Linked DNA regions of Homo sapiens: region 2 is linked to region 1. Evidence: fine-mapped expression QTL. A gene starts in region 1. The other region holds a variant in brackets. All regions are shown on one strand. Distances are from middle to middle.

Region 1 (2,925 bases):
GGCTATCTTGTGCTTTTCCTTTTTTTCATGGAATTCATTTTTTTGGTTGTCCTTTTTGACATCAATCAAAAGAGGGATGTTAGAATATGTTCTATTTTAGAATCATATTTGATTAGTAAGAGTAGAATCCTCAACACTCTGTTGACTCAAGAATCTCCTGAAATCAGGCGGTTTGTTCCCACTGTTTTGAATTTAGGTCTTTTTCAACTAGTATTTATGTTCAATAAACAACTTAACATAGCTGTTTTAACCTTCCTTGTTATTCAAGAAAGCAAAGACCACAGCTCTCAACTTATATGGGATAGCCAACCCGGAGGCTATTCTCAAGGTTGTTTTAAAATCTTCAGCTTTAAAAATTTTATTTGCTGAATAATTCAAATACAGAATCTTATATGTCTATCACTTCCCAGTGGGATCTTCTCAAGGCAATTCATGAAGCAGTTTGCAGAAGATAAATTACATTTTTTTGAAAACTGTGAGTTATAAGATAAAGAGCACATCACTGTCACACGCAATTAGGAGAGACTAAGATGTTACCTGCTTTAAACTTGTATTTAACAATTCTCTTCTCCTTTTTTTCCTTAGGGGAAGTGATTCAGTTAGACAAATTCTTAGTCGTAAAGCTCAGCAAAGACAGATGTCAGCCAGCTTTAGTTCAGTTGAACAATGTGGGGGTTAGGATGCTGATCCCTGCACAGTTGAAAATTCATGTATAACTTTTGACTCTCCCAAAACTTAACGACTTATAGCCTACTGCTGGCCAGAAGCCTAACCAATAACACAATTAACACATATTTTATATGCTCTGTGTATTATATACAGTATTCTTACAATAAAGTAAGCTAGAGAAAAGAAAATGTTATTAAGAAAGTCATAAGGGGGATGAGTGCAGTGGCTCATGCCTGTAATCCCAGCATTTTGGGAAGCTGAGGCAGGTGGATCACTTGAGGCCAGGAGTTCCAGACCAGCCTGGCCAACATGGCGAAACCCCATCTCTACTAAAAGCATAAAAATAAGCGGGCATGGGGGCACATGTTTGCAATCCCAGCTACTCCAGAGGCTGAGGCAGGATAATTGCTTGAACCTGGGAGGCAGAGGCTGCAGTAAGTTGAGATCGCGCCACTGCACTCCAGCCTGAGCGACAGAGTGAGACTCTGTCTCAAAAAAAGAAAGGAAGGAAGGAAGGAAGGGAGGAAATACCTGGAGGGGGCGCCTGGGCTTTGTATTATTTTGTTTTGGGAAAGAAAAGAAAGAAGAAAAGAGAAACGAAATGAAAAGAAAATAAAATCATAAAGAGGAGAAATACATTTACTATTAGTTAAGTAGAAGTGGACAATCATATAGGTCTTCATCCTCATCTTCACATTGAAGGGACGGAGGAGGAGGAGGAACGGTTGGTCTTGCTGTCTCAGAGGTGGCAGAGGTGGAAGAAAATCTGAGTATAAGTGAACCCATGCAGTTCAAACCCATGTTGTTCTAGGGCCAACTGCATTTTTAAAATAACTGCTTTGGAAGATCTGTGTGTATGTGTGTGTATGATCTGAGAAATTAGTTAGAAGAAAAGAGGAACGAGGAGTAGAAAAATACCAGCATTTCTGATGGTCAGTTTCTTTTAATTATAGAGAGAATTCAGCGTTCACCAAAGTTGGCTTAATTACTCATTTTCTCAGTAGAAAATTTCTAAGTGTGGGGTTTGACTGATTTTTACAGAAAGAGAATAGAAGTCTTTCAAATTTGTGGGTAAGAATGATTCACCCTTCTTGCTTTTGTTAAGAAATAATTGTGAATGTTAAATTACATTAATTTTGCTGCCTGAATTGAGTTTTGAATGCTTGCTATTTCTTTCTCAGCCAAAGGATATTTAAAATGATGCCAATGGAACTCATTGATTTTAACTACAATATTTGTTGAAAACAAATACGTATATCAAGGTTACTTCATATGTCTTTTTCAAACAAAATCTCTTCCTGTGGGTGGATGTTTAACAGAAATTACACTTAGGTATTGCCAAACTTCAAAGAAAGGAAGACTTACTCATCTTTTGGATGGAGAAAGGATTCATTTACCAGACCTGACTTGGTGATTGCAGATCTTTGACTGAATTGCCTCGGAGTCTAGATTTCTCTGATAAAGAAAGACTCATTCAAACTCAGTAAATCACAAGAAAAAGAAAGAAAAATGGGGAGGAGGGAATGGGATCAATATTCTAAAAGTCTAGGATTCTAGTTTAGTTTAATTTTATAGTTATATGATGAAGAAGAGAGGAGAAGCCTGGCTAGAAAGGTGGATGTTTGTCACTCAATTAATGTTTTTTTGCTTTTACCCAATTCATGTTCTTGAAGCTGCTACATTTACTGACCTACAATAAGTGTAGAGAGGATGAACTATATTGATAATCCTGTTTATTGACCAGATTGAATACTCAGGTTTGATTTTTGCATTTTTGGATATGTTTTAAAGGTAGAAGATCTTAAATTCATATTCAAAATACCTTTTATCCTGCCTTTCACTTAAGGAAAATTATCTGGAAATTGAAAGTCCTCCAGGCAAAGGTCTGGCTGTGATATTACTTCTGGGCGACACTTCTCACAAGAGGGAAGATAAGTAAATTGCTCTGACTGCTTTTTATTCTTGAGGTTCCTGCTCCCCCCAATCCCCTGCCTGCAAAGTTATTAGATAAGTAAAATAAGGTTGAAGAAACATAAGGGATAGTCTTGGAGAGGAAATGAAGTTTTTAAAGAGCATCCAAAAAACGTGAGGGTGGGGGAAGAGATCTAGAACCCTATATGGTGAGGGAGGTTGATGGGGGAAGAGGGTTTGAAATTGGATATTTCCCCTATTCCAATTCATTTGCCTTGGATACACCTGGAGGGGGCACCTGGGCTATGTTTTATTTTGTTTTGGCATGAATTGGACAGGTACTTC
Region 2 (2,925 bases), 130 kb before region 1:
ATTCACAGTAGCAAAATTGTGGAACCAACCCAAATGCCCATCAATCAACGAGGTGATAAAGAAACTCTGATATATATGATGATGGGATACTACTCAGCCATGAAAAGAAATAAATTAACAGCATTTGCAATGACCTGGATGAGATTAGAGACTATTATTCTAAGTGAAGTAACTCAGGAATGGAAAATCGAACATCATATGTTCTCACTGACATGTGGGAGCTAAGCTATGAGGATGCAAAGGCATAAGAATGATACAATGGACTTTGGTGACTTGGGGGGAAGTGTGGGAGGGGGCACGGGATAAAAGACAACAAATATGGTGCAAGGTATACTGCTAGGTTGATGGGTGTACCAGGTTCTCACAAATCTCCACTAAAGAACTTACTCATGTAACCGAATACCACCTGTACCCCAATAACTTATGGAAAAATAAAATTAAAAAAATTAAAATGCCACTTTTATTTAAATTTTGCTGAATGTTAAACAGCAGCACTTAAATATTGGTTTGTAATAATTTCTAAAATGGGAACATTTTGAACAGCAACAATCAGCCATGCTTTTATATGTATGCCTGTATGTATGTGTGTGTGAAAATGGAAAAGAAATTGTGTTTAAAGTTTTCGACTTATAGTCTACTTTTGCCCCATGCTCTGTTGATAATATCACTGTTTTAGGCCTACTCATTTAATCAAACTGTGAAGTTTTCTTGAGCATGTGTTTAAATCTTAGGGAAAACATTAAATCCATTTCAGACTGTAAACTCTGTGTGGACAGGAACCACACTTATTCTCTAGGACACATTCAGAATCTGGCAAGTTGCCCTCTGAGTTCTTTCAATAGTCATCCAATAAAGTATGAATCAAGCTTCTATTTTGTGCCACCTGATGAGCACAGCCAACAAAGACCAGGTTACCAGCTCCATGGGGCTTACAGTCTTGCTAGTTAGCACTTAAAAGCCAATTAATAAATGAAGGAAAGAAGGGAGGGAGGGAGGGAGGAAGGAAGGAAGGAAGGAAGGAAGGAAGGAAGGAAGGAAGGAAGGAGAAAACAAAAGAAGAAACATTATTTAAAAAAAAACACCAGGTTTGGTGAAACTGAGTGTTTTCTCATGATGTCTGTCCAGTTTCTTATAGCATGCTTATTTGTGCATTCGCTTTCAATTAGGACCATTTGGGAAGTAGAATTTCATCTTTCATCAGATGTTTAAAGAGACCGCAAAAAAATCAAAACCTTGAAAATAATTTTAATAACGCTTATAACCAGAGGGCAAGTAAAGTTTGAATTAAATGTTCAAATGTAATACAATATATTCATTTCATATAATTCATAATATGAACTCCCTGTTTTTTTATGTTTCTCCCTACCACTAGATAGGGTTCCTTGAGGGCAGTGATGGCGTCTTTTTCATCTTAGTATCCCCAGCACCACCCAGCATGGTGTCTGCCACTTAGTTAGAACGTGAAAACATTTGTTGTCTAAATGAATGCATGAATGTTGAATGACTTCTTGCGTCTTAAAACACAGCATACAACTTTGC[C/T]AGTTTTAACGTACAATGACAACATTTACCTAAGCCTGACTCCCATGAGAACATTATACTACTTCTTCCTTTATAACTCAAACTAGTTTAATTAGCATGCATTGAACACTAATCCAATACAATGTACCCATTCAGACTCTTGTCTGGCTTGTAAAAGATTTCAAACACAGAGTAACAAAATGTTACTCCTGAAAAAGGGAGCAAAATCAGAATAAACAGAATAAAAAGACTTGGAAAATGTATAGATGCCTTCAATCACGGTTGATCTTGTTTTTAAGATTCTTTGACTTGCGCAATATTTAAAAGCCACAGAGGAAAGCAAAAATTTGGTAAGTAAAGCCTAATTCTTTTCATGTTAAAAGTTAAGCAGATGCAAGAGACTCCAGCAATAATGGATGTGCCATCGACGCATTCAAATGCAGATGACTAATTTATTCAAGCTGTATGTTAGCTTCCTTGTGCTCATTAGTTGTTGTAATGGACAGACATATTCTGGGAATTACTAATGCTCTGAAATAGGAACAGGGGCTGGTAAGAGACACTGGCTAATGAAGCCAGACGTTTTAAAAGATTATTTTTTCTGTAAGTGGAAGAAACAGTGATTACAAGTGCTTTATTCTTCCTCTCCTGCTTGCAGATTTGTGACTACATTTAACACCTTAAAGAAAGAGCTTTTTAGGACAGATACACATGTATGATTTCTCATTTTACTCAGTAAATCATTTTACACCTCACTGAAAGTCCTGAATTTCCACCACTATTAATAGCATTTTCATAAGGATATATAGCTGTATTGGCCACTGGCCTGACTTGGTATGATGCATTCCATGAAGTTACATGTTTGCTTTTTGTAAACCTATGCCCTGAATTACAGACTGCTATTTAAAAGCATATAAAGATGCAAGCAAATCCATTATAATGGGATTGAATGTATCTGTATGGATAGTAAAAGTTTAAAACTGAAATGTACAAGTGTTCAGAGAAAGCCTAATTTCACTTCCAGAGAAAAGACTTCACAGAAATGAGATTCCATGAGTTCCTAAAACTACCCAGGAGAGCACTCTGGAATATTCAATAGTATATAGCACTTTTTAGTTTATAAAGCACATTCATTTATGATCTATCTGATTTATTTCTCATCTAAACCTTGTTATAACAACTGATACTTTTGTTTACATATGAGGCGCCAGGCTTCCTATTAAGAACTTAAATGCATTGTCTTTGCCTGTGAGGTAGATATCACTATTCCTCTATGTTAATTAGGGTAAGTCAAACTGCTATAACATACAGTCTGAATATTCAATGGATTTGAAAGAAATGTATACTGGAGTAGAAGTTCCCCATTAGAAATAGCTCTGCATCATGCTGACATTTAGGAACCGAGGC

Alleles and levels. Alleles are on the strand shown, and positions count from the first base shown. SD is a standard deviation of normalised expression in the study named.
For the expression in prefrontal cortex of the gene that starts at base 1,707 in region 1, allele C in region 2 goes with a lower level than allele T (small effect, 0.32 SD a copy in CommonMind).

Evidence for each region. PIP is the estimated chance that this variant, and not a neighbour inherited with it, causes the effect.
Region 2: its variant is the best candidate, but not a certain one, in a credible set for the expression of SLC39A12-AS1 in prefrontal cortex (CommonMind, PIP 0.67).

Annotation. Positions count from the first base shown.
Region 1 is chr10:18,009,344-18,012,268 of GRCh38, reverse strand. SLC39A12-AS1 (SLC39A12 antisense RNA 1) reads left to right here and starts at 1,707. Exons shown (of 5, transcript NR_038419.1): 1 at 1,707-1,740; 2 at 2,516-2,604. The region is part of intron 12 of SLC39A12 (solute carrier family 39 member 12); the gene reads right to left.
Region 2 is chr10:18,135,205-18,138,129 of GRCh38, reverse strand. No RefSeq gene overlaps it. Among named protein-coding and RNA genes, the nearest start is that of CACNB2, 3.8 kb to the left of the region's middle. RefSeq lists an enhancer at 1,241-2,207. The variant C/T (reference allele first, on the strand shown) is at 1,540.